Linked DNA regions of Homo sapiens. The protein of the gene in region 2 purifies or fractionates together with the protein of the main gene of each other region. This does not show direct contact. Each region holds a gene or a part of one and is shown on either strand. Other genes may lie near its edges.

What was found.
Region 1: the proteins of KCNK4 (region 2) and CRYGB purify together in Homo sapiens (affinity purification with mass spectrometry; one large-scale study listed by BioGRID and IntAct). This does not show direct contact.
Region 3: the proteins of KCNK4 (region 2) and TMEM161A purify together in Homo sapiens (affinity purification with mass spectrometry; one large-scale study listed by BioGRID and IntAct). This does not show direct contact.

Annotation. Positions count from the first base shown.
Region 1 is NC_000002.12:208,139,674-208,150,987, forward strand, and holds CRYGB (gamma-crystallin B), read right to left. Parts: upstream 6,486-11,314; 5' UTR 6,448-6,485; coding exon 6,439-6,447; intron 6,344-6,438; coding exon 6,101-6,343; coding exon of another isoform or gene 6,095-6,100; intron 3,241-6,094; coding exon 2,965-3,240; 3' UTR 2,900-2,964; downstream 1-2,899. UniProt on the Homo sapiens protein: Crystallins are the dominant structural components of the vertebrate eye lens.
Region 2 is NC_000011.10:64,289,502-64,295,510, forward strand, and holds the start of KCNK4 (potassium channel subfamily K member 4), read left to right. Parts: upstream 1-1,800; 5' UTR 1,801-2,065; intron 2,066-2,220; exon of another isoform or gene 2,221-2,284; intron 2,285-2,496; exon of another isoform or gene 2,497-2,617; intron 2,618-3,440; 5' UTR 3,441-3,517; coding exon 3,518-3,706; intron 3,707-6,009. UniProt on the Homo sapiens protein: K(+) channel that conducts voltage-dependent outward rectifying currents upon membrane depolarization. Voltage sensing is coupled to K(+) electrochemical gradient in an 'ion flux gating' mode where outward but not inward ion flow opens the gate.
Region 3 is NC_000019.10:19,134,321-19,145,353, forward strand, and holds the start of TMEM161A (transmembrane protein 161A isoform 1 precursor), read right to left. Parts: upstream 4,159-11,033; 5' UTR 4,109-4,158; coding exon 4,106-4,108; intron 597-4,105; exon of another isoform or gene 568-596; coding exon 464-567; intron 1-463. UniProt on the Homo sapiens protein: May play a role in protection against oxidative stress. Overexpression leads to reduced levels of oxidant-induced DNA damage and apoptosis.

The DNA.
Region 1 (11,314 bases), on a different chromosome or scaffold from region 2:
CTGTAAAACCTTTGCCCCGTCCTCACTTGGTGCTGACGCCATTTTAAGCCTCGGCCTTCCTGCACTCAGGCGCACCCAGGCGCTCCTTAAAACAGCTTATTGCTCCACACCTCCTCGTGTTGTCTGTGGACGCGCTCTTGGGGTTGGAACCGATACAAGAACCTTACACTGCTGGGCTCAAGTGATCTGCCTGCCTCGGCCTCCCAACGTGTTGGGATTACAGGCGTGAGCCACCACGCCTGGCCTATTCTTTTACTTTTTAAAATTTTGTGAAAAACTAAGACACAAACACACACATTAGTTTAGGCCTACACGGGGTCAGGATCATCAATATCACTGTCTACCACTTCCACATGTTGTACCACTGGAAGATCTTCACGGGCAAAAACACACATGGAACTGTCACCTATGATGATGATGCTTCCTTCTGTAGTACCTCCTGAAGGCTCTGCCTGAAGCTGTTTACAGTTAACTTTTTTTTTTAAAAAAAAGTATAAGTAGAAGGAGAATACTCTAAAGTGATGATAAAAAGTATAGTATAGCAAGCTGGGCACGGTGGCTCACACCTATAATCCCAGCACTTTGGGAGGCCGAGGCAGGCGGACCACCTGAGTATTGACTTTCTCTTTATGTTGGATTTAGGAGGAGGACAGGACATCTTTTTCTTTGCCTGTATCCCAGGGATAGGAGCAAAAAATTTCTAAGAATAATGACTTGATCAAAGAGATTCGGGGACTCTAATCCCTTTCAGTTCAGATGTTTTAGAATAATTTTCATGCCTAAAGACGGTGATTTACTTTTATTTTTATTTTTAGAGATAGAGTCTCTCTCTGTTGCCCAGGCTGGAGTGCAGTGACGTGATCTCACCTCACTGCAACCTCCGCCTCCCAGGTTCAAGCGATTCTCGTGCTTCAGCTTCTGTAGTAGCTGGGATTACAGGCATGTGTCACCACGTGCAGCTAATTTTTGTATTTAAATTTAGTAGAGACGGGGTTTCGGCATGTTGGTCAGGCTGGTCTCAAACTCCTGGCCTCAAGTGATCCGCCTGTCTTGGCCTTCCAAAATGTTGGGATTACAGGCGTGAGCCACTGCACCCAGCCAAAATATGTGATTTTATGTCTTCTAGGAAAATAGTGTAAAATTCAGCACGTTAAGAAGCTTTTGGTTTTCTGAATTATGTTTGACATGTTATTGTTGACAAACAGAGGACTCTGATTAATAGCTCCAGGAAGCCATCACTATTGTTGCGAGTTTAAAGGTTAAAGACCCAAGATTTAGGAAGAGTTAACACTAAATAATCCTAGATTCTGACTGTTTTTCAGGAAATAAATCTTTATATGTATTTGTGTTCTCTATATATACACACATACAGTAGGCTAATATACATATACATACAGTAGGCTAAACTTAGGCTACACATTTTTTTAAAATGCTTGCTTTCTTCAATAATAAACTAACATTAGCATACTGTAACTTTGTAACATAAACTTTTTAACATTTTAAACCTTTTTGACACTTTTGTAGTAATATTTAGCACACACACACACACACACACAGTAGGGTAAACTTGCATCCAAGTTTGCCTAGAACAGTCCTGGTTCATGTCTCTTGTCCCAGTGTAATTATTAATAGTATATACTTTCACTCTCAAAAATGACCCAGTGTAGGCCAGGCGTGGTGGCTCACTCCTGTAATCCCAGCACTTTGGGAGGCCGAGGTGGGTGGATCACCTGAGGTCAGGAGTTTGAGACCAGCCTGGCCAACATGGTGAAACTCTGTCTCTACTAAAAATACAAACATTAGCCGGGCGTGGTGGCACACGCCTGTAGTTCTGGCTACTTGGGAGGCTGAAGCAGGAGAACTGCTTGAACTGGGAGGCAGAGGTTGCAGTGAGCTGAGATTGCACCACTGAACTCCCGCCTGGGTGACAGAGTGAGACTCCATCTCAAAAAAAAAAAAAAAAAAAACCCAAAATCAAAACAAATGACCGAGTTTATGACTGGGTGTGGTGGCTCACACCTGTAATTCTGGCACTTTGGGAGGCCCAGACAAGAGGATCGCTTGAGCTCAGGAGTTTGAGACCAGCCTGGGCAACATGGCAAGACCCTGTCTCTACTAGAAATAAAAAAAATTAGCTGAGCATGGTGGTGTGCGCCTGTAATCCCAGCTATTTGGGAGGCTGAGGTGGGAGGATCGCTTGAGCCCTGGAGACGCAGGTTTACAGGGCTGGGATTACAGGTGTGAGCCACCACGCCCGGCCACTTAGTATTATTATGTGTAATCATAATATTTTACTCTCTACTGAAATGACATGAGGCTGAGCTTCCCGTGCGCATGTGGTTTTTGTAAATGTCCTGAAATTATTCCACAAAGCACATATAGCGAAAACACAGTGAATTCTATTTGGACTGGAAATCTCATAGTGGAATGAGATATTGGCAGTGGAAGTGAGAGGAAAGGGATGGTGACTGTTAGGAGGACAGGAGTGCAATAGGTAAGAGTGGACCAGTTCATTTATTTGTTTGTTTATGGAGCTGAGGTAGGAGTCTAGAGGCTGAGAACAACTTTCCTCATCAGCTAAGGCCTGGACTATTAGGGAAGACAATAGGGATAACCTGGAGGGATAACTTGGAGGTGTTTCAAAAAGTACCAATTCACCACCGTAGCTGCAAATCTAGCCTGGTGAGACTAACTACAATTGGCCTGAGTCCAAGTGAACTGAGCTTTTATTTGAGCCTACATGTTTTAGTCATTACAAGAGTGCTGGAAATAATATCTCTGCATTATTCCCCTTATAAAAGATTGCTTCCCATCATGAAAACATGTTATTATGTTTGGCTGAGTGCCATTATCACTTATAAATGCTTAATAGATTGAAAGAAAGACAGGGCTCTACTAGTGCCAGAAACACAAGCTAAATATTTTATTAGATTTTAAAGGAGAAAAGTGGAAAACGTAAATACTTCAGTACAAATCCATGACTCGTCTAAGAGAGCCAACTTTGGCATTTGGAGCCCCCCAATCAAGAAACCTCCTGTACTCCCCCGGCCTCAGCAGATACTGCCTCCCCCTGTAGTTGGGCATCTCATAGAGGATCCAGCTGCCCTCCAGCACATTGAGGGAGTGAATTTCAGTGAGGTGGAAGCGGTCCTGAACAGAGATACAGTCGTCTGTGAGCTCTGACATTTGTCCCCTCAATTCATCTCTGTCGTAGATCTTCATTCTGTAAGCGCCAGAGTGCTGGAGTGGCAGACAGAAAACGCAAGAGTAAACAAACAAAAACAGATGGAAATTAAAGCTCCAGTCCCTACACCTCCCTGGCCACACCTGCCCAGAAGTTCTCCCAGGCCAAGTTTGCTTCTAGAACAACCCTGTTGCAAAGTTAAGGAGCTGTCACACTCCCCAGTCACCCACCGCTGAGTCTAATGATTCATGGGCAGAGCTAGGGCTTTGGGAATTAAGATTTGCTTACAATAAAATATCACATCACTTTAGTGCCTGTTATTTGAGAAAGCCTTTCTCAAAGGAGAAAACTGAGAGTCATTGGAAAGTTAAATGTCATATTATGTATATACAGTGAAAGGAAAATAAATCTTGGGACCTCAAAATCACTAAGCTAAAGGGAAAAGTCAAGCCAGGAACTGCTTAGGGCAAACCTGTCTCCCATTCTATTCAAAGTCATCCCTCTGAGGCTCACCTGAGACAAATGCATCTCTGATTGCTTCCTCTCCCCTATTGTTTATGTAAAGATGCAGAGTCATCGAGCCAGACTAAATTGTGTATTCAGTGGAAAGCTGATCAAGGGCTCAAAGAACCTTTTGTCTCTTATCTACTGTTTTTTTTTTTGAGACAGAGTTTCGCTGTTGTTGTCCAGGCTGTAGTACAATGGCGCAATCTCAGCTCACTGCAACCTCCACCTTCTGGGTTCAAGTGATTCTCCTGCCTGAGCCTCCCGGGTAGCGGGATTACAGGCGCCCACCACCACGATTAGCTAATATTTTGTATTTTTAGTAGAGACGGGCTTTGACTATGTTGGCCAGGCTGGTCTTAAACTCCGTCAGGAGTTCAGGCGATCCACCCACCTCAGCCTCCCAAAGTGCTGGGATCACAGGGGTGAGCCACGCGCCCAGCTCTGTTTCTTATCCATGTCTAACCAGGAAGCCCCTACTTCCTGTCTTACCAGACTGAACCAATTTACAACTTATACATATTGATTGATGTCTCATGTCTCCCTAAAATGTATAAAAGCAAACTGTACCCCTGACCACTTTGGGCACATGTCTCAGGACTTTCTGAGGCTGTGTCATGGGTGCATCCTCAACCTTGGCAAAATAAACCTTCTTTCTGGGTTTTTTTTTTTTTTTGAGATGGAGTTTCACTCTTGTTGCCCAGGCTGGAGTGCAATGGCGTGATCTCGGCTCACCACAACCTCTGCCACCCAAGTTCAAGCAATTCTCCTGCCTCAGCCTCCCAAGTAGCTGGGATTACAGGCACGCGCCACCACGCCCAGCTAATTTTGTATTTTTAGTAGAGGTTTCTCCATGTTGGTCAGGCTGGTCTCAAACTCCGGACCTCAGGTGATCTGCCTGCTTTGGCCTCCCAAAAGTGCTGGGATTACAGGCATGAGCCACTGTGCCCAGCCTTGGCAAAATAAACTTTCTAAATTGACTGAGACCTGTCTCAGATATTTGGGGTTCACTATTATATGCGCACGCACACACACACACACATATATGTATTTGTTTCTTGAGACAGGGTCTCCCTCTGTCACCTAGGCTGGAGTGCAATGGCATGATCATGGGTCACAGCCCCCTCAACCTTCTGGGCTCAAGTGACCCTCCCACCTCAGCCTCCTGAGTAGCTGGAACTACAGGCATGCACCACCACATCTGGCTAATTTTCAGTTCAAATTTCTTTTCTTTTTTTTTTTTTTTTGAGACGGAATCTTGCTCTGTCACCCAGACTGGAGTGCAGTGGCATGATCTCAGCTCATTGCAACCTACCCTTCCCGGGTTCAAGCGATTCTCCTGCCTCAGCCTCCCAAGTAGCTGAGACTACAGGCGCGTGCCACCAAGCCCAGCTAATTTTTGTATTTTTAGTAGAGAGGGGGTTTCACCATATTGGCCAGGGTGGTCTTGAACTCCTGACCTCCTGACCTCGGCCTCCCAAAGTGCTGGGATTACAGGCGTGAGCCACCGCACCCAGCCTTCAGTTCAAATTTCAACCTATCTGACTTTTAAGCTTCCTTTCTAGCCTCCTGCTCTCAACTTATTTATTTCCCTCAGCAGCAAGTATCACCTTCATTAACTTCTGTTTTTATGACACTGTATCCCATGCCTCCCACACACCACAATTCTAAGAATTCTGCAGTCACTGCCCAGAAAATATGGAATCTCAAACTTTAGTTTCAGATTTGGCCTTTTCTCTAATTTATACCTCTAAGTGAGCTAATAGGTACTGACCATTAAATTAGAATAGAAATCAGAAGACAGGATCCTATCTTCTCAGGAGGAATAATCAAATAGAAAAGTAAGACAAAGCAAGCAAAAGTTTGTTGTTGTTGTTGTTGTTGTTGTTATTGTCGTTTTGAGATGGAGTCTCACTCTGTCACCAGGCTGGAGTGCAGTGGCACGATCTCGGCTCACTGCAACCTCCATCTCCCGGCTTCAAGCAAGCAATTCTCCTGCCCCAGCCGCCCGAGTAGCTGGGATTTAAGAATAATGTGATTAAATAGGCCGGATGCCGTGGTTCACACCTGTAATCCCAGCACTTTGGGAGGCCGAGGCGGGCGGATCACTTGAGGCCAGGAGTTCGAGATCAGCCTGGGCAACATGGTGCAACCTCGTCTCTACTATGAATACAAAAATTGGCTGGGCATGGTGGTGCATGCCTGTAATCCCAACTACTCAGGAGGCTGAGGCAGGGGAATTGCTTGAACCCGGGAGGCGGAAGTTGCAGTGAGCCGAGATCATGCCACTGCACTCCACCCTGGGGGACAGAGCGAGACTCCGCCTCAAAAAAAAAAAAAAAAAAAAAAAGAATATCATGAAATAGCTTTTATTTCCAAAAAGATGGAAGGCAAAGACAGAGCCACACTCACCGGGGGGATGAGGCAGCAGGAGCGGATGGAGTCGCTGAGGCCCATCCATTGCTGGTAGTCAGGGTACTCCCCACGCCGCAGGAAGTACTGGTGGCCCTGGTAGTTGGGGCGCTCATAGATCATCCAGCAGCCGCTCTCCACCCTGATGGAGTTGCAGCGGCTGAAATAGGGTTGTAGGTTGGGGCAGTCAGTGGTGCATTCGTAGCTGCGGCCCTGGAAGGCCCTGTCCTCGTAGAAGGTGATCTGAAAAATGGAAGATGTGGGAGCATGGAGTGATTGGCCCCCACTGAGGCCACTGCATTAGGGCCAAGGCTGAGCATCCGGTACCCAGGACTTACCTTTCCCATTTTGAAGGAAGTGAGCAGATGTTTTCTGGTTGCTGTGTGGGACTGCGGGAACGTCACTGTATGTATAGCAGCCCTGACTGCTGCCTCCACAGGAAATCACACAAAAGGGCCCATTTTGGTGAGTAAGGGGATTTGCAAGCTCGCTGCTCTCCGTGCCCAGGTCACTGGGGTTGGCTGAATGGTTTACTCTCATTCTTTCTGGTAGGTTCGGGTTGTTCTAATTCACTAAAGCTGTTGTTGCCATCAAAATGAATAGAGTACACTTTTAGTTGAGCAAAAGGATGGGCGAAATTCTGTCTCTGTGCTTTTATTTTATAGTTTACTCTGCTTAATTGACTTCTCAAAAGTCATTAAACTAAGTAATGAATTCTGCTCAGGGACTGGTGGTGTTTTTGTGTGTGTGTGTGTGTGTGTTTTAGTTCTAAAAGCCAGAATTTAAATAGTAAGGAATCTTAAAGAAGAGGGAATCAAGTGAAGTAATCTGTGAAAGTGTGTTAAAACCCATAAAGCTTAGTTCAAATTCAAAATTCTGTGATCAGCCAGGCGAGGTGGTGCACACCTATAATCCCAGGACTTTGGGAGGCTGAGGCAGGTGGATTGCTTGAGCTCAGGAGTTAGAGACCAGCCTAGGTAACATGGTGAGACCCCATCTCTACAACAAATACAAAAATTAGCCCTGCATGGTGGCGCATACCTGTAGTCCCAGCTATTTGGGAGGCTGAGGTGAGAGGATTGCTTAAGCTCAGGAGGTCGAGGTTGCAGTGAGCCATGATTGCACCACTGCACTCCAGCCTGGGCAACAGAGCAAGACCCTGTCGCAAAAAAAAAAAAAAAAAAATTCTGTGATCATCATTGTTGGTGTTTGGGGGCTTGTCTTGAATAAAACTGATACTTGCCTGGAATTTTGTAGGCTTCTGGGGGCTGGGTATTATTTCTTGTTCATGTCTATCCCTGAGCCCTAGAGCAGAGGGTTGGCACATTGCAGGTCCTCAATAATTGGCTCTGACCTGAGCAAAAACAGATAGTTGTGGCTTTCTTCCCCCTTTCAGATCTTCCTAAGGGCCTAAATCCCTCCTTCTGCTGGTGGCTGTCCAGAGTCCTGCCTGCTGTTTGGTGTTCCTGCTCTGCCTCAAATGTTACCACTAAGTGGCTGATTGGTCTTCTCAAGGCATGGGACCAAAAGGGCTCAGAGTTGGTCCCTATTGCTGGCAGATTGGACATTCTACAGTGGAAATAGCTGGATTAGCCTTAATAAGTAGAAGTTAATGCATAGCCTTCATCCATACCACTATGAACGCTCTCTTAGTGAGCTCACTGCCAGCAGTAGGGTGGCTGATGGCAGACGCTGACTGGAATCAAATGACCAAATCATTTTTTCTACTTGGTTGTTTAGTGCCTCTTCAATGGTGGATGCCCTACACTGGGCCTTCACATGGGATACAACTATCTTCGCCCTTTGTGCCCAATCCCATATCTCCCTGCACATTCCTCTACCCCAGACCTTCTTGTCCCTAATCTTCCAATCTTTCTCCTTCCAGGCCCTGGACCAGCCAGCCAAGCCACACATTACTGCTCAATAATTCCATATATGCTTGACCTTGGGCTACTTTTCTTTCTGCACCGAGTGAGCAGCCAGGTGCACTACCTCAAGGTTGCCTTTTGGGAGGATTTCCCTCACTGCTGTCTTTAGGGTGACTCCTGAGTGAGCTATTCTGCAGCAGCATTCTATTTTGGGCTTGTACCCAAATGCCATGCCAATTTATTAGTGTATCAAGCTCAGCCTTCCCCCACTCTATCAGCTGGTCAGAAGGGACCCCTGCAGGCAGTTGTAAGTGTGAGCTGAGAGAGAGCTATTGCAATAATGGTGACTTCATCCCATCCCGCAGGGAAGGCTAGGGCTAGAGTTGTCAGGAACTTAGGCAAGTGGACCGGGAATCTGTGCCTCTGCATTGCCCCGTAATTTGATGTGGGCTGCTGCCATGGAGAAGTGTAACTTTGGGCAAGGCAGCTTCCTCCAGCAGAAGAAAATTCTTGGAGACAAACTCAGCTTTAAGCTGTCAGCATCTGGGAGAAGGAGTGCTTCAGTCCACAGTGGAAGTCCAGGCAGCACCAGAGCGTCCACTACAAGAAGAAAATAAAGCTGAGATAACTGCAGTTAACATTTTGGTGTTTCATCATCCCAGCTTTTTTATATGTCAAACCCATGTGTGGTTGTACAGTGTTATTTATACTGTGTAGCATTCTCTTGTTTTCTTCTAAGTCACCTTTCAAATAAAGTGATTAGTAATACTGATTAAGGTGATCACATTTAGCCTTTTAATACATATATATATATTTTTTTTGTGAAGAGAAACTGAATGAAAAATCGTTCTAGACTCTCTATTGGTTAGCTATACCCATGCTTGAGGTCTAGGCAGTATTCAGGAGAATATCATTCACCCAGTGGACTCACTAAAACAATGTAAACAGTCTTTATGTGCTGAAAGTTCTAACTCTTAAAGAGACTAAATTAACAACCCTGTTTGATGTAAGACCTAACATACTCAGTGTGATGCATAGGTGGGTGTTTGAGGATCATGATGAACTATCATGTAGTGAGCATTGATCTGATTTAAAATTACCCAGATTTTTATCTGCAGGATGATGTTTAAGTGATTGAGGACCCTAGAGTAACTTCCTTTAAGTCATACAAATTCAACCAGTCTCTGGTTCTGATACGTAGAAGAATCAGTAATCCTATGAAAGAAAGATAAACTAAGTATTAGGAACACAAAATCAAAATCTCATTGATTCTAATAGAAGAAATTGAAGGATTAAACATATTTCAGCATCAGTTGTGACTCTTCTTGAAGGGCTCACTTTGACATTTGTCTTCCCCTAGTGGTGAAATTCCTGTTTTCTTTGGAGCCTCAGTAGGAATTTTCTCCCCTACAGTTGGGCATCTCGCAGAAGATTCAGGGTCTTTTATAAGTCTAGGGATTGGGAGAAGATATCCTTGAAAGGAACTAATCATGTATGTGGGAATAGTCTTCAGGGAGCCCCAACATGAGGCCTCCTTACCTGGTACTGGGAGCTGGTCACTTTTGAAAAATAAAAGAGAAGAAAGAAGATGAAAAATAGAAGAAAGAAGAAGAAATTAGTGCATGATCTTGTTATTATGGCTTTATAAGATCTTATATAATGTATAAAAGCCTAACTGAAGATAAAATTTGTTCAGTGCTTAGATTACACAAATCGGAGAGTCTGCCTTTGACTTGGCACGTTAATGAGCATTATAATTCAGGCACATTAATGAGCATTATAATTCAAAGAGCAGAATTACCTGTAATTAACCTGGGTTTTCACCATAGTTTGTACAAGGAGATAGCTACTTTCTCCCTACTTCTCACGAGACTGGTGGCTTCCTCTTCTGGCAGGGGGCAGGGCCCCTAATATCCTATGGGCCCCAAAGATCCCATTTGTCCCAAAGTTTCTAGGTGCAGGGAAGCTGGTGTTCCCAGAGAGCTGTAAATAGCTGATACTGTCAATCCAGGCAGCTTGTGTATTTCTCCCACTGACTTATGCTACACTCCAAAAAGGGAAATCTGTAGGGGGCAGGGGTCCCTCTATTGGAACAGAACCTACACAGTATCCAGTAGATACCCAGGCCCTAGCATGACTCTCCATAGCCAGATAAACAGTATGGAGTGCTTATAGGCTGGCTCAGGCCCATTCCTTAACCTATCTCATGTGACATTGAAGAATTTGTTCCAACCTCTTGCACAACTAGTGACAGCCCTAAACAAGCCTTGAGGCAAATTGTTATATTGAGACTATTGGGGAATCAAATTAAATACTTAGAAAGAAAATATTGGTTCAAGAGGTTGGTGAAAGAGCTTCATCTGCTGTTTCCAAAGTCATGGGAATGTCTGGGCCTTGAATTCAAGTCCTCTCAGTTGCATAGTCAGCTTCTGCTATTGGAGTATCAGGCACCTAGGCTGGTTAGAGTTGTAGGAGGGGAGAGTGATAGTTTCAGGGCCTGCACCATTGCTTGGTGGAGAAACCAACACTTGAAAACAATACCACCTATGACAACCTATCCTGCTTGTCCCATGGTCTGGATTTCACACTGCTTCCTCTAAAAAAATTTTGTTTTTCATCACAATACTAACAACCACTGGGAAATTGTTGACTAGGCACTATTTGTGGAGAATACACTCAGGGGAGCAATAGCTACACACATCTACTAACTTTTACAGTTTCTGTAACTGCTTGTGAAAAGTCATTTAACTTCCCTAAGCCTCAGTTTCCCCATTTATTAAATAGGAATAACAATGAAAACCAGATGAGACAATGGATTTGAAAGCATATGACAAATTGTAAAATATTGCCAATGATTTAGAAAATAGTGTCATATATATTGTTAAAGAAAAAATTATCACACTTGTTAAAGTGGTAAGGAAGACTGTTCAGAGAGGGCCATGGTGATAGGAATAGGGATCATTGCAATGGGGTTTTGCAGTGGGGAAGAGAGATTGTACTCAACTCTGACTCCAAAAAGGATGAATGGGGATTTACAACCTAGGAGTGGGGTCAGGGGCAGTGGATGGAAAATTACTAAGAGGAAACACCAAGGATAAGAGGTTTCTGGCTAAACTGACTTGGTAGAGTTATCGCGGAAGGATGACCAAGGTGTTCAGATACCAAGGGTGGGAGATATTCACTAAAGTGACTCAGGAGGATTCTTGATCAAACTGGATTCTATAAGGACAAAAAGGGAAGCCCGAGGTTGGACCTAGTAAAACAAAAGACTCAGAGAAGACTGACTATAATTTTGGTAAAAGGGGAGAGTGTATTAGTTTGTTCTCACACTGCTATACAGAATTAC
Region 2 (6,009 bases):
ACCTGTCTGTCATCTGCCTTGTGTTCCTATCACTTTTGCCTGTTTGGCCTAAGGCTGAACAGACACTAGCCCTTGAAGTGGGCTGCTAGGCTGGGCAGGGGTGACTTACCCCATCAAGGCTGGTGGGCTGGGAGAGGAGGGGCCTGCAGTTTGCAAGGGAAGGAGACCACACAGGCCTTTGTTCTCAAAGCTCTCCTGGCCCAGAATTGCCCCACTACCTCCAGATCCCTCTCCACTTGAACAGTTGCTACTCTTTCCTCAAGACCTGCGTCAACTGTTACCTCCTTTAGGAAGCCTTCTGTCTCCTGGTCAAGGGACATGGCCCCTCTGCTGGGCCCCACAGCTCCACATTACTGATTATGTGGCCATTGAGGTTCTTTGTTTTGTTTTGTTTTTTGAAGCAGGGTCTCACTCTGTCACTCAGACTGGAGTGCAGTGGCACGATCATGGCCCACTGCAGCCTCAACCTACCAGGCTCAAGCAATCCTCCTGCCTCAGCCTCCCGAGTAGCTGGGAATACAGGCACATGCCACCATTCCTGACTAATTTTTTAATTTTTAATTTTAGAGGTGGGGTTTCACCATGTTGCCCAGGCTGGTGTCGAACCCCCGGGCTCAAGCAATCCACCCACCTCAGCTTCCCAAAGTGCTGGGATTACAGGCATGAGGTACCATGCCTGGCAGCTTCTGAGTCTTAACCCCAATGGATTAGACTTTCTGGAGGCCCTGTTTCCCTATCACCACCCCAACCTGGTCTTTAGGAGTCAGGAGTTAGTCCAGGGCTTGCTGGGGAGTTGGCGCAGTGACTGAGCAGCCCCCATCTTCCTACCAGGGCGTGGGTTTGCCCAGATGTACAGGTGGTCCCCTAGCTATGCCCTCCCGTTAGCCCTCTTCTCCACTGTCCTTAGTAGCATAGTCACTGCCCTCTGCTTCCATGGCCCTGGCAGGTCTGTCTGATGGCTAGGAGTCCTTTGCTGGAGGGTCTGTCCCCTGCCCACATAGGTGGTTGTCCCAGCTTTTCAGAGTTCCCTTGGCTTATCACTGGGCCTGCTTCAAAACCCTTTACTTGGGACCATCCTGGGCACCAGGCCCTCAGGGCCTCCAGAGAGGGCATCTGAGACTCATAGAGAATCAGCTTGAAGCTGGACAATCACTTTTTGTTGAAATAAAAACTGCTAACGTTTGTGGGGCACTTTATTGTGTGTGCCAGGCTCTGTTTTGAGGATTTCTAAACACTGGCCTCCTTAATGCCCAGAACAGCACCCCGAAGTGATGATTAATCATCCCTTTTCTGTAAGTGGGAACAGGGAGACTCCAGAGTTTGGTAACCTGTTCAGGTTCCCTACCAGTAGCGGGTGGTCAGCCTCAAAGCCCAGGCTGAAAGCCATCCAGCATGAGGGCTGAGGACCCCAGCAGGCACCAGAGGGTCTTTGGAGAGGTCACAGGTTGTCAAGTGGGTGAGAACAGGGCGGGGCAAGTTCAGGACCAGCCAGGGCCTGGGTGTTCAGGCAGTGGGAGAGTGGATGCTGGCACCAGTGCCATGCTGGGATCTGCAGGCAGCTTCAGCCACAGCCTTCCGGGGCTGATTTCTGGGCATGGAAGTGAGAACCAAAAGCTGGGGCAGGGAGCACCCTGGAGGGATAGCCGGGGAGCAGGTAGAGGGCCAAAACCTGGAGTGGGGGCAGGAGGTGCTCCAGCAGCAACTCCCCCAGAGGTGGGTCCCAACCTCCACGTCGGCCAATTCCAGGTGGCCCCACCGGGTTTCCCCCACCCCTTTGTCCCGCGGAGCCCCTCCCTCATGAGTGCTGAGCCCAAGGGCCAGGCTGTCCCCAGGGGCGGAGAGTTGCGGACCCTTCCCGATCCGGTAATGGGCCTGGGAGATGCCAGATTAGCGTGGTGCCTGTCCGGAGAGACGGGCCAGCTGATGCCCAGGTCGGGGCCCTGCCGCTGGCCACACTGGGCTCCGGTCCAAGGCTAGAAGGCTGGCCCCTGCTGCAACCCCTCTCCGGCTCCTCTGCCACCCACCTCCCGGGGCTGGCCGGCTGTGGGGAGCCAGGCGGCCGCAGGTAAACGGCTTGGGGCGGCGCCGGCGGCGAGGGCGCTGCACGGAGGGAAGCGCGGCGCCGGAGGGGTTAACCGCGGGAGGAGGGGGGCTTCTGCCGGCGGGAGGGGGGTCCCAGCCCCGGCGGCCGCCCGCTCCGCCCCTGCCGCCTCCGCGGCCCAGTCGGCACCGGCGAGGCCGTGCTGGAACCCGGGCCTCAGCCGCAGCCGCAGCGGGGCCGACAGTAAGTGCGGTGCGGGCTCCGGTGCGCGGGCAGGACTCAGGGGCAGGGACGCCCCAGGGGCGACTGGCCGGGCGGGGTGCCCACCTCTCGCGCGTGGGCGCCTCCGGGAGTGGTGTGGCCGCCGGTCCCGCCGCCCGCCACGCTCCGAGGCGTCGCTGTGCGGACGCGGGGGAGGCGGTGGGAGCGAGCTGCGGGCGCTGCGCGGTGGCCCTGCTGTCTGGCGTGTGCACGCTAGTGTCCACACACGTGTGCGTGGGCTCTGGGTGCCCTGGCGCGGCCGGCACGCCCATGGGGGCCGGGGATGCCGGGGCGTCTGCGGAGAGTGCAGGTGGGGTGCGTGCGTGCAGCGGGGCGGCGCGGCGCTGCAGCCTCGGGATGGAGCGTGGGCGCGCGGGTCTTTGTGCCCGCGCTTGGCGGCGCGTGCCGGGGCGTGTGTGCGCGTGGGCGCCGCCGCCCGCTGTCTCGGACTGACAGCTGTCTCGGGGGCTGTCGCCCCGGTGTGGCCTTTGCGGACCCCCGCCCCGCTTTTTCCGGGAACTGGGCGTCCCCAGCACCCCTCCTCGCCTGGGTGCGGCGGCCGGGACCCGCCCCTGGGTTCCTCGAAAGCCCGGCGGGGCGCGGGGGCACCCTGGAGGGCCAGCCAGGAAGCAGGGCGAGGCGAGAGGGGACGGAGAAGCCGCGGAGATGCTGTCACAGCCGCAGCGGGCGAGCAGGGACCCACCATTCCCCTGTCCCCGCCTTGCGCTGTCCGGCCTCTCCTCCGGGTTTCCCTTCGGACGCCTCCGAGCCCCCTCAGCCTCCTCCTCGAGGGCCAGCTCCCCGCACCCCCACCAAGCTCCACACATTTCCTCGCTCGCCCCGCTTCCCCCTAGGCAGGCTTAGGCTCTCTTTCGGCCTCCCACTCGCCTTCCTTTCCCTTCTCGGTGCCCTCCTCTCTTTCCTCACCCGGTAGTCCCAGACAGGGGCTGAGGGCCGGGCAGCGGAGGTAAGGGGAAGGCTGGAGATAGGAGGGGGACTGGGTGTGTCCAGCCAGAGGGATGTCTGTGGACAGTGCAGCTGGGGGCTTTATGGATCTTTGGGTGTGTAGGGGATAGAGGAGGAGGGTGTGGGTGTCAGGCCAGCTCAGTGACCCCAGCATCCCTGGTTTTGCCCGCAGTGACGACAGCTCCCCAGGAGCCCCCCGCCCGGCCCCTCCAGGCGGGCAGTGGAGCTGGCCCGGCGCCTGGGCGCGCCATGCGCAGCACCACGCTCCTGGCCCTGCTGGCGCTGGTCTTGCTTTACTTGGTGTCTGGTGCCCTGGTGTTCCGGGCCCTGGAGCAGCCCCACGAGCAGCAGGCCCAGAGGGAGCTGGGGGAGGTCCGAGAGAAGTTCCTGAGGGCCCATCCGTGTGTGAGCGACCAGGAGCTGGGCCTCCTCATCAAGGTGCGTGGGTGGGCCGCAGCCCCTTCAGCTGTCACCCATCACCCCTGGCGCTAGCTGTGTGCCAGTGAGGCCCTGTGCCAGTGCTGCTTTCAGATCAGTATCCCTGAGGACGGGTGCAGTGGGAGGCTGTGGGACAGAGGCTGGGGACCAGGTCTCTGTGTTTTCAATAGGGCAACTGTGGGGTCATTTGTTTTCCTGGAGAGCCTGGCACAGGACTGTGCACCTATAATGTCTCCTTCAGGGTGTGATGGTGGTGGGATGAGGGGGAAATGAATGAATGAATGAATGGCCATAGCGCATGGGCTATGTTACATTTGCACAGGTCTCACTCACCGGTCTAGATTGCCACACAAAATCCAAGACTCTCATTTAAACATGAATTACAGTTAAACTGCAAATGCCTTTTTTTTTGAGACGGAGTCTCCCTGTGTCACCCAGGCTGGAGTGCAGTGGTGTGATCTCAGCTCACAGCAACCTCCGCCTCCCAGACTCAAGTGATTCTCCTGCCTCAGCCTCCCAAGCAGCTGGTATTACAGGGATTCATCACCACACCCGGCTAAATTTTGTGTTTTTAGTAGAGATGGGGTTTCACCATGTTGGCCAGGCTGGTCTCAAACTCCTGACCTCAAGTGATCCACCCGCCTCGGCCTCCCAAAGTGCTGGGATTGCAGACATGAGCCACCACACCTGGCCCACAAATGCCTTTTTAATACAAGTCCATCCCAAGCAATATTTTTGTTTGCTAAATCTGGCAACCCTACCTACACCGGTTCCCATACTTTTCTTGGAGTCATGTGCCTTAGAAAAGCCCAAGAACATGGTGAACACACCCCCTCCCCCTGGAAAAGTGTGCATATGAACATGTGCAGGTGATTTGGGAGGGTTCCAGGATCCATGCCACCAGGAATGCCAGGTCAGGTGCCCCTTCCCCCAGCATGCATGCTTACCATGTGGGGAGAAGGGGGGGTGCGTCAGGGTTCCCTGAGGCACTTCTGGTCAGACTCCAACCATAGACTCAAGAAAGTGTTGGCCGGGCACGGTGGCTTATGCCTGTAATCCTAGCACTTTGGAAGGCTGAGGTGGGTGGATCACCTGAGGTCAGGAGTTCAAGACCAGCCTGGCCAATGTGGCAAAACCCCATCTCTACTAAAAATACAAAAATTAGCCGGGTGTGGTGGTGCATGCCTGTGGTCCCAGCTACTCGGGAGGCTGAGGCAGGAGAATCGCTTGAACCCAGGAGGCAGAGATTGCAGTGAGCCAAGATCACACCACTGCACTCACTCCAGCCCAGCCTGGATGATCGGTCTCAAAAAAAAAAAAAAAAAAAAAGAAAGTGTTGGGCTGCAGCCTTCTGGGATACAGTCAGGCAGGCACGTCTGTTACTTTTTCTGATTTCGGAGTCACTGTCATACAAAAAAATTAAGATTTAGCTTTAATAAATTAATGTCTATTATTTGAAATTGAAGAGTACCCTTTGTTCCCTGCCTGTTCTTTGTGGAGAGAGGGGCCATTGGCACGGAGGCCTCAGTGTTCCAGCAGATTCTCAAGGCAGCAGGACTCAGGGCAGAGATGAGTGTGGGGTGGGGTTGGGACACAGACCACCCGACAGCATCTCTGACACTTACAGAATGCCAGTGGAGGCTCAGAGAGGCGTGGGAAGAATGTATCTGGCCAGACCACAGGGCAGAGAGAGGGAGGGAGGGAGGGAGGGAATCTGACCTAGTTTGTCTTCACAATGGAATTGCTTTTTTCCTGGATAAGAAAAAGGAAGAAAAGGAGAGGCAGGACCTAGAAGGGTGGGTGACAGCCGCTTTATTTCTCTTCCACAGTAGGATTCACTCCCTGAATTAGTTGTGCAGCAACTGTGCACCTACTGTGTGCTAGGTGCTGTAGTGTTATATGCCAAGGGGATATTGGAGTGGATCAGACACAGGGTCTGCCTTGGAGGGTGTCACATCTAGGCAAGGGGAGAGATCCATGGTCAGACAGATCACTGTAGGATTCAGTGGAAAGGAAGTTTCCCTCTTTCTGTTAAGCACCAATTGTGCTAGACCTTGAGCTAGGGGCTGGGGACAAGGATGGAGATGTCAGGGGCCTGAGGGATGACCTGGTGATTGAAATACACCAGGCGAGAGGGGTAGAGAGTAGAGACGAGGGGCAAGAGATGCCCATGTGGAGAGACAGCATGGGCAAAGGCGTGGAAGCTGGAAAGTTCCGGAGCATTTTGCAGAACCTGGAGTTAGCAGATGCCTAGTCATTTGAAGCAAAAATTAGAACACACAGGATGACAAAGGATTTTTCCC
Region 3 (11,033 bases), on a different chromosome or scaffold from region 2:
GTCAGGCATGGGAACTCACGCCTGTAATCCCAGCACTTTGGGAGGCCAAAGTGGTAGGATCGCTTGAGCCTAGGAGTTTGAGACCAGCCTGGGCAACTTAGCAAGACCCCATCTCTATTAAAAATTTAAAAATTGTCTGGGCATGGTGGCGCACACCTGTAGTCCCAGCTACTCAGGAGATTGAGGCAGGAGGGTCACTTGAGCCCAGGAGGTTGAGGTTGCAGTGAGCTATGATCAGGTCACTGCACTCCAGACTGGGTAACAGAGTGAGACCCTGTCTCTAAAAAGAAAAAGAAAAAACAAATATATGCAGTTTGTTGTACTTCAATTACACCTCAACAACGTTTTTCCCCCCACCACCCACCAACCAAAATCAAGGCTTTGCAATTTGTGAGGCGGGGCGTGGGGAGCCAGAAGGGGGCGTGACTCCGCGGGCCCCTCCCACCGCCGGGGCGGGGCTCACCTGCCGTTACAGAGCAGCCAGCGCGCGAAGGAGCAGTGTGGCGCCAGCCTGTGCATGAGGGTGGCAGTGAGCAGGGTCACCACCAGCTGTACTCCGAGGACCGCCTGGGGGGAGGGGACATGACTGGCAGCACCTGCCAGAGGGTCACAAGTTCCCTCCCTCCCTAGGAACCCAGGCTATTTATAGAGAAGTCAGGCTGGATGGGGGAAGGGCGAGCCTCTTAGGCTCTAGCGGCTTCTTAGGGGAGAGTCCTGGGGTGAGTCTGGACTCACCTAGCATGGCCCTGCCCTCCCACGTCAGAGATCAACACCCACCCTCACCACCTAGCGGGAGTGTAGGGCAGTGGAGACCATGGGATTTGCCTCCCGCCTCCGCTATGGATTCAGGTATAATATTAATTTCCCGGAGTCTCAGTTTTCTCATCTGGAAATGGGTGCTTCCTATGTAGTCTCCTGTATTCCTCACCACCACCTTCCAGCCCCTAACCACGAGCCCGCCACACTCAGTGAAAGCGGCTCCCACCGCCTTCTGCACCCCACACTGTCACCTAGGGAGCCACTGCGTCTCGGTTGAGCTTCTAGCTTTCTCCTTCACCTGGTAGCTCCTTCCCCTAAGTGTCTCCCACCTTAAGTGATCCCTGATGGTTCCATCACCCTCCTCCCTCTTCTTCCCTTTGTAATTAACCTCCTTGAAAGGGCGTCTATGCTCCTGGCCACCTCCTGTTTTGGTGTGAAGACCTACATGTCTGAGTGGGGTGAGCTTATTTATTTTTATTTATTTATTTATTTTTTTGGCAAGGGAGTGGTGGGGAGAACAGGGTCTTGCTCTGTCACCCAGGCTGGAGTGCAGTGGCATGCTGGGGTGCTCACTGCAGCCTCAACCTCCCAGGCTCAAGTGATTCTCCCACATCAGCCTCCCTAGTAGCTGGGATTACAGGCACTCGCCACCATACCCAACTAATTTTTGTCTATTTTGTAGAGACAGGGTTTCTCCATGTTGCCAGGCTGGTCTTGAACTCCTAGGCTCAAGCAATCCTCCTGCCTTGGCCTCCCAAACGGTTGGGATTACAGGCGTGAGCCACTGTGTCCGGCCTATTTTTATTTTTATTTTTAGAGATGGGGTCTTGCTATGTTGTCCAGGCTGGTCTCAAACTCCTGGGCTCAAGTGATCCTCCCACCTCAACCTACCGAGTAGTTAGGACTACAGTCATGTGCCAACACACCCAGCTAAGGCTTTTTTTTTTTTTAATTAGGAATTTTCTCACCCAGTTCTTAATTCAGAACACATTTTCATATACTTATTTTTAAACGTTTTAGAAGAATCAGTCTGTGGTGAAGCTGGGTTTTCCTGCTTGAATGCAGTAAATACCCATTTGCTGCCAGTAATTACATAATTATGTAAAATTATGTGCTCAGGAGAGCTGTCTACTAGTGTTCTGGAATTATCATCAAAATGAAATAAAGTTTATTTAATAGTAAAATTAATTATGAAAATAATCCTTTAATCAGGCATAAATAAGCTAAATTTAGTCGGAAAAACCCTAATGTGATGGGTACCGGGCCTAGCACGGTAATTCAAAATGACTGCTGAGGCCAGGTGCGGTGGCTCGTGCCTGTAATCCCAGCATGTTGGGAGGCTGAGGCGGGCTGATCACTTGAGGTCAGGAGTTTGAGACGAGCCTGGCCAACATGATGAAACCTTGTCTCTACTAAAAATACAAAAATTAGCCAGACATGGTGGTGGGCGCCTGTAATCCCAGCTACTTGGGAGGCTGAGGCAGCAGAATTGCTTGAACCTGGGAGGCAGAGGTTGCAGTGAGCCGAGATTGTGCCACTGCACTCCAGCCTGGGCAACAGAGTGGGACTCTGTCTCAAAACAAAATAATAATAATAATAAAATAAAAATACATAAAATAACAGACTAATAGGACATTTTCTCTGTACCTGTGACTTGTAAACTGAGACCAGAAATCTTTTTTCAGTAATGAGGTTGGTGGCGGCATCTTTCTCATCTCTAAGTCCTCATTGCTCGCCCTCCCCGGGACCCTAGTGCAGACTGGCTGGCTGGCACTTAGGGACCATGAGTGCCAGCCCATGGGCCCCTGCAAGCCAGTGGGTCAGGGCTGTTGAAGCCCCACCCTTCCCCTAGGACCCTGCCCTCCCACCCCCCAGTCTGTTTTTCTCCTCTCTCTCCGACCTCTCTCCTGTGACCTGCCAGGGTTTTAACCACCCAATCAGCCAGCCCATCAAAACCTCAGCACGGTGACACCTCCAGCCCAGACCTCTCTGCTGAGCTCAACCAGTAGCCTCCTCCAGGCTCTCCTGGGAGACCCTAGCACTCACCCATCATCCCATACCCTTCCAGGTGGTTCAGGCCCTTCCCAGTCTCACAGTCAGCCCCCAACTTGGTTCTGCACCCTGCAGGCATAGCTAGAGACCATCCCTCCACCTCCCCACAGCTCAGCTCTCTCCTCAGCCCTCCCTGCACCCAACCACTGGAGTCTCAGAGGTCTTCCTGGACCTTTGGGCTCTTCATCAATGACCCCACCACCCCCCAAAACCCCCCAAGGGAAAAGGTGGTGGAGGGGTGCATCTCTCCACCTAAGGCTCCCAGAGGTCTGTCCAGGGATGTTCTGATGGCCCTGCCCTCCACCCAGCCTCCTGTCTCAGGGTCAGGGCTCTGCAGACATCTGCAAGAATTTTCTGGAGTCTTCCATCAGCTCCTTCTTTTCCCTTCACTGGATTTACGATTCTCGAACTCAAGAACCCTGATAAAATCAATGCAGCCTCCCTCCTCATTCCCGGGAGCCTGTGCCTTCATCTCCTACGGCGTCCTGCACCTCCGCCTGGGACGACGCCCCACTTTCAATAATTCCGGCCATCAGTGCCCTTCCTTCAGGGCCATCTCCAGCGCCCCTCCTCGGGGATGGTCCCAGGCAGAGACCCTCCAGTTCCACGTCCCTCTCTCTGCCCAGGCCGGTCCCGTCAGGGTTGTGGGAGTCCCCCATCTCCCTGCACCAGCCTGACCCCCAGGGGCTGGGCTAAGTTTTAAGAACACACTCAATAGGTTGGACCCAGAGCCGCGTGAGACCTGAAGGTTCCAACTTTCCTGTCTCCCACTCTGAGAACCTTGCCCGCCCTGAGGCCAACCAGACCTCCTGAGTCCACCTCCCACGGCCTCCCCTGCCCGTTCCACACACCCCGATATAGCAGGGACCCCCGATGGATCCTGTCGGCGCGGCCCCCACGCTCCTGCAGGACCCCCGTCCCCAGAGTGGACCCCCAACAGGACCCCACACCGCCTTAACCAGGTTCCAAATGTGCTGGGGTCCCCAGTCCCCTCTGTGGGACCACGACCCCTCAAAAGGATCCCAGACCCCTAAAAGGTCTCGAGGGCAGAATCCCCAGAACGCTTAGGGGCTTCTAGTCCCCCTGGGTACAACTCCCGCCGACTCCCTCGGAGGTCCTGTAGCGAGAGCAGGGCTCCCAGAGAGGGACACACGGCCTTCAGCGTGCCCCCGAATCCCTCAGAGCCTCCAATCCCCAAGAAGAAACCCCAATCCATTCCCTCAGTGTCTCCCTGGACCCCTTCGGCTGGACCTCGGCCCTGCAGAACCCCCCACTTCGCGGGACGCTCGCTCACCATGACGCGTGCGAGAACGCGGTGCACTCACCCACCGGCCTAGGGCTCCGGGCACTCTGCGGAAACTCGACCAATTAGAGCCCGACTCTGGTCTGACGAGCATCCCGTCCGACCAATCAGTGTGTCTTGAGCCGGCAAATCACCAGGGACGAGGAGGCCGCTCGCGTTGCATGCCGGAAATTGTAGTTCAGATACGCTGGTTCGGATCGATCAAAGTGAAGATTGTGTCTGGGAGGCCTGCGTGGCCGACCTCTCTTAAGGCTTAGTTTTCTCTTTCCTACACTTATCTCAAAGGTTTGCAGCGAAAGCATTTATTCCCACCTAAGGGACATTTCTGAGAGTAGAATTCCCTCCCCCCATCAAGAACATTCAATGGCTCCCACTTAGTAGACGAAGTACTTAGTACTCCTAAGTACTAAGTAGGCTAAGTACTCAGACTGAATTCAGACCCTTCTGCCTGACTTAAATCTGCTGCTAGCACTATTGTGCACCCTATAGTACAACTTGCACCCACCATGCTGTCTCATACCTCCAGGCCTTTGTAAATATCCTACATCTTGCAATGCCTTCAAGAATGCCTCAATCTTAAAATAAAAACAAAACAAAAGCAAAAAAGAATGCCTCAATCTTTTTCACCTGGCAAGTGCCTTATTCATCTCTATCAGCTAGGACTCTGGCTGTGCTCCACAAAATATCAACTAACATGGGTTCAAGCAAAAAAGGAAAATTTTTGGCTCATGTGACAGAAAATACTAGCCATAGTGTCAGCTTCAGGCGTGGCTGGATCAAGGACCAAATGTCAGCTTCAGGGATCTGATGTTCTTTATTTCACCGCTAGGAGGAAAGGGCTTCTGGTGTTTGTGCCCCGGTTTTGCCATTTGTCTTTCTGTGGATGAGTGTGTCTGCCTGAGTGTAGACATATATTGGGTATGACTGAGTGTCTGAGCATCTTTATGGGGGTGGGTTCCTGTGTGTGGGGCCTGAGTAATTACCTTTTCGTTTTTACATTTTATTATGTATTTGTGTATTAATTTTTTTTTTTCTTGAGACGGAGTTTCGCTCTTGTTGCCCAGGCTGGAGTGAAATGGTGTGATCTTGGCTCACCGCAACTTCCGCCTCTTGGGTTCAAGTGAGTCTCCTGCCTCAGCCTCCCGAGTAGCTGGGATTACAGGCATGCACCACCACGACTGGCTAATTTTGCATTTTTAGTAGAGATGAGGTTTCTCCATGTTGATCAGGTTGGTCTTGAACTCCCGACTTGAGGTGATCCGCCCACGTCGGCCTCCCAGAGTGCTGAGATTACAGGCGTGAGCCACCGGGCCTGGTTTATATTTTATTTTTTTAACTTTCGGCTGGCAAGTGCTGAATCCTAAGCGCACTATCGCACGCCACCTCGTGGTGGAGGGCAAAAGCGCAGTCTCCCTGGGATGGAGAAGTCAAACCAGTCTCACTTGTGGCCCTGGGGGCTCCCAGCCTTAGAAAGCGGCCCATAGTTTTATGGACCTCACACTGGGTGCTTAGCCTGTGGGCACTAACATCAGGGACTGGCCTGACTTCTTGTCCACCGTGAGGGTGAGATCCAAAGGCTGGGAAGGCTCTTTCTCTCTGGCCATGCCTCAGTTTCCCCCAGGGTACCCGCTACCTTGACCCTTTTCCTCTTGCTCAGTCCCTGGCCCTGGTCTGGATGTGCGGGGTTGGGGTGCCAGTGAGTAGGTAGGTCTTCAGCCCATGTGGAAGGAAGGCCAGGATCATTGTCGGGGAGGTCCTCAGAACAGAAGGGTGGGTAACTGGCTGAAGAGTTTGCATCATCTGTGCATGTAGCAGTGGCGCTGCTGGAGGTGGCAGGAGCTGCATGCTCAGCTGGACCTCCACAGCCATTGATCACTGCCATGAGGACCGTGGCTCACCCCTCCTGAGTGGGGAAGGGACAGAAGGGACCAGGTGGGAAGTGTTGAAGACTTGAGTCCAGCCAGGCATGGTGGCTTGGCGTATGCCTGTAGTCCCAGCTACTTGGGAGGCTTAGGCTGGAGGATCGCTTGAACCCAGAATTTTGAGACCAGCCTGGGCAGCACAGCAAAACACCCATCTCTAAAAAAAAATTAAATTAAAAAAAAAGTTAAATTAGCCCAACGTGGTGGCTCAAGCCTGTAAGTCCCAGCTACTCAGGAGCCTGAGGTGGGAAGATTGCTTGAGCCCAGGAATTTGAGGCTGCAGTGAGTCGTGATCATGCCACAGCACTCCAGCCCTGGCAACATGACGAGGAAAAAAAAAGAGGCTGGGTGCAGTGGCTCATGCCTGTCATCCGAGAACTTTGGGAGGCCAAGGTGGGAAGATCACTTAAACCCAGGAGTTCCAGACCAACCTGGGCAACATGGGGAAACCCAGACTATACAAAAAATACAAAAATTAGCTGGGCAGGCTGGGCACAGTGGCTCACGCCTGTAATCCCAGCACTTTGGGAGGCTAAGGGGGGCGGATCACAAGGTCAAGAGATCAAGACCATCCTGACCAATATGGTGAAACCCTATTGGGTTTCTACTAAAAATACAAAAATTAGCTAGGCGTTGTGGCTCACGCCTGTAGTCCCAGTAGTAGTCCCAGCTACTGGGGAGTCTGAGGCAGGAGAATCACTTGAACCCAGGAGGCAGAGGTTGCAGTAAGCTGAGATCTTGCCACTGCACTCCAGCCTAGCTGGGCAAGGTGGTGTGCACCTGTAGTCTCAGTTACTTGGGAGGCTGAGGCAGGATTGCTTGCACCCATGAGATCAAGGCTGCAGAGAGCTATGATTGCACCACCGCAGTACAGCCTGGGCAATAGGGCAAGACACTGCCTCAAAAATAAAAAAATAGGCCAGGCGCAGTGGCTCATGCCTGTAATCCCAACATTTTGGGAGGCTGAGGTGGGAGGATCACTTGAGGTCAGGAGTTTGAAACCAGCCTGGCCAACATGGTGAAACCCCATCTCTACTGAAAATACAAAAATTAGCCGGGTGTGGTGGCAGTCGCCTGTAATCCGAGCTATTTGGGAAGGACGAGAATCGTTTGAACCCGGGAGGCAGAAGCTGCAGTGAGCCGAGATCCCGCCACTGCACTCCAGCCTGGGCAACAGAGTGAGACTTTGTCTCAGAACAAAAAAACAAAAAAAAAAACCCAATAATAATAAAAACAAAATTAGGCCAGGAGCGGTGGCTCACACCTGTAATCCCAGCACTTTGGGAGACCGAGGTGGGTGGATTACCTGAGGTCAGGAGTTTGAGACCAGCCTTGCCAACATAGTGAAACCCCGTCTCCACTAAAGATACAAAAAATTAGCTGAGCATGGTGGCACATGCCTGTAGTCCCAGCTACTCAGGAGGCTGAGGCAGGAGAATCGCTTGAACCTGGGAGGCAGAGGCTGCAGTGAGCCGAGATCGTGCCATTGCACTCCAGCCTGCATGACAGAGCGAGACTCTCTCTCAAAACAAAAAACAAAAACAAAACAAAATAATAAAAATAAGTAAGTAGAAAAGAAAAAGAAAAAAGACCTGAGTCTGGGTTGGGTGAGCGAAATCTCTAGCCGCACTTGGACACTCTGCAGAGGCTTCAAGTTCACCCCATCCAAGTCTCATTCCCTACAAGCTTCCACAGCACAGAGGATGAAATGGGAGCTTCCAGTCACCCACGGCACGCTCTTCCCTTCACCTCCACCTCCGAGCCGTTCTGGAGTCCTGGTGGGTTTGCCTCCACGCACACACAGAGAGTGATCATTCCAGGGGGCACTGCCTCCCCTCAGCTCCCAATGCCCCCTGCCACGGGAGCCTGGGGAGGGGCTTTTACACACTTTGATCATGCCATATCCCTATCCTGGAAACTGGGGCCCCAAAGCCCCCACCTCACTGGGGATGAGGGTGGCGAAGATGACGTAGGACAAACCTTAGCTGGGGTCTGGGGTGCAGATGGCATCCTATACTCCGCCGTATAAACAAGTGCCCCCTCCGGGTTCTGTCACTTATATACTTTGTCCAGTCTCCCTATCCCTTAAAAGGCGTCCCGCCCATCATCTTGTCTAGGACTGTGTGCGCTAAGGGTGAAATGCAAGGTGCTCAGTTTTACTGAAGAAATCTCTCCCTGGGGCGCTGAGTGACAGAAAGGATTTTGAAATTGTCAGTCAACGTACCCCGCCCATTCTGGCTGAGCTGTGCCAACCAGCTCAGCTTTGGATCTTGGCAGAGTGATTGGAAAGCAGGTGAGTTTGTTTGTTTGTTTGGTTTTTGAGATAGAGTCTTGCTCTGTTGCCCAGGCTGGAGTGCAGTGGCGCGATTTCGGCTCACTGCAACCTCCACTTCCCGGGTTCAAGTGATTCTCCTGCCTCAGCCTCCTGAGTATCTGGGACTACAGGCACACACTACCATGCCCGGCTAATTTTCGTATTTTTAATAGAGACGAGGTTTCACCACATTGGTCAGGCTGGTCTCGAACTCCTGACCTCAAGTGATCCACCTGCCTCAGCCTCCCAAAGTGCTGGGATTACAGGTGTGAGCCACCATGCCCGGCCTGTTTTTGTTTTTGTTTTTTTACTCTTTGAGACGGGGTCTTTTGCTCTGTTGCCCAGGCTGGAGTGCAGTGGCTCAATCATGGCTCACTGCAGCCTTGACTTCCCGGGCTCAGGTGATTCTCCCACCTCAGCCTCCTGAGAAGCTGGGACTAGAGGTGTGCACTGCCACGCCTGGCTAATTTTTTTTTTTTTTTAAGAGATGGGATTCACCATGTTGCCCAAGCTAGTCTTGAACTCCTGGGCTTAGGCCATCCTCCCACCTCAGCCTCTCAAAGTATTTGGATTACAGGGGTGAGCCACTGTCCCCGGCCAAGGCGGATCTTGTAAGTCTTGATCTCAACACTCATGTTTTCCGTCTTCCTGTCCAAATCTGTGAACTCCAACTCACAAAGGTGTTTCTCAGCTTGGGACAGTGTAGAAGGCGTCATGGAGGAAGAGAGGCAGAGCTGGGCCTTGGAGGGTGGGAAGGAGTTTAAAAAGGAGACAAGTTGGGGGTTGAGGGAGGCGCTCCAGGAAAGACCAGTAGGGTCACATGTTGGTACTGCAAATATTTCTAAGGTACTGGAGAGGCTGGGACAGGGATAGGAGACCAGGCCAGACTAGGGTAGGGCAGCTGAGGAGCCCAACTTCCTTCTAAGGATGAGGAAAAGCTTCAAAGAGATGAGCAGAACATGGCAGAGGCAGATCTTTTAAATTTTATTACTGTTATTTTTAGAGACAATGTCTTGTTCTGTCACTCAGGCTGGATTGTAGTGGGCTGGTAATAGCCCACTGCAGCCTCCAACTCCTGGGCTCAAGGCATCCTTCCTCCTCAGCCTCCCAAAGGACTGGGATTACAGGCAAGAAGTAATTTTTTTTTTTTTTTTTTTTTTGAGACGGAGTCTTGCTCTGTTGTGCAGGCTGGAATGCAGTGGCACGATCTGGATCTCGGCTAACTGCAACCACCACCTCTTGAGTTCAAGTGATTCTCGTGCCTCGGCCTCCCAAGTAGCTGGGATTACAGGCATGGGCCATGAGGCCCAGCTAATTTTTGTATTTTTAGTAGAGATGGTCTCAAATTTCTGGCCTCAAGTGATCTGCCCGCCTTGGCCCCCCAAAGTGCTAGGATTACAGGTGTGAGCCACCGTGCCCGGCTAGAAGTCAGTTTTTTATGTTGTCGTTGTTTTTGATGTTATTTTTGAGATAGGGTCTCGCTCTGTTGCCCACGGTGGAGTGCAATGGCTCAATCACAGCTTGCTGCAGCCTCGACTTCCTATGCTCAGGCAATTCTCCCACCTCAGCCTCCTGAATAGCTGGGACTACAGGAATGTGCCAGCCATGCCCAGCTAATTTCTTTTTAAATTTTTTGTAGAGATCAGGGTGTCAGTATGTTGCCCAGGCTGGTCTCAAACTGCTGGGCCCAAGCCATCCATCCACTTTGGCTTCCCAAAGTGCTAGGATTACAGGCTTTGGCCACCGCACCCGGCAAGAAGTCAGATGTTAAGTATTATGAAGATCTCACTGAATGCCATGTATGGTGGCTTGCACCTGTAGTCCAGCTACTCTGGAGGCCGAGGTGAGAGGATTGCTTGAGCCCAGGAGTTTGAGAGCAGCCTGGGCAACATAGTGAGGCCCCAACTAAAAAAAAAAAAAAAATCCCACTGAGACCACCTGGGGTGCGTGAGGCCAGATAGACCCTGCTGCACCTCAACTATTTTCTGGGAGCACCCCTGACCTCAGGACACCCAAGTCTGTCTTCACACACAGGACAAGCCAGAGTGGGGGCAGTTTGCAACCCCAGGAGTGGGTATATAAACACCCTGCTCTCTTGTCCCCTGGGTAGAATCAATTGCTGGGTCAAGGGCTCAAGAGATACACCCATTCAAAAGATGAGCAGTCGGCGAGGCTGGGTGGCTCATACCTGTAATCCCAGAACTTTGAGAGGCCCAGGAGGGCGGACCACCTGAGGTCAGGAATTCGAGACCAGCCTGACCAACATGGGGAAACCCGTCTCTACTAAAAATACAAAAATTAGCATGGTGGCAGGTGCTTGTAGTCCCAGGCACTCAGGAGGCTGAGGCGGGAGAATCCCTTGAACCCGGGAGGCGGAGGTTGCAGTGAGCCGAGATCGCACCACTGCAATCCAGCCTGGGTGACACAGGGAGTCTCTGTCTCAAATAAAATAAAATTAAAATAATAAAATAAAAAATAAGAAGATGAACAGTTCAGGGGCGCTTCCAGCGCCCTGGGAGCCCGACATTCAGGATTCCCAGCTGCTGCTTTTGGGAGCCCTACGACCCAGCCCTAGGGCTTGCCCCTGAGCCCATGACCCACAGCGCCGGGAGCAGCCCTGGCCATTGGCCCTGGAGTGGAAAGAGCCGGGGCCCTCACCCCTGGAGTGGGACCATTCTAGGTG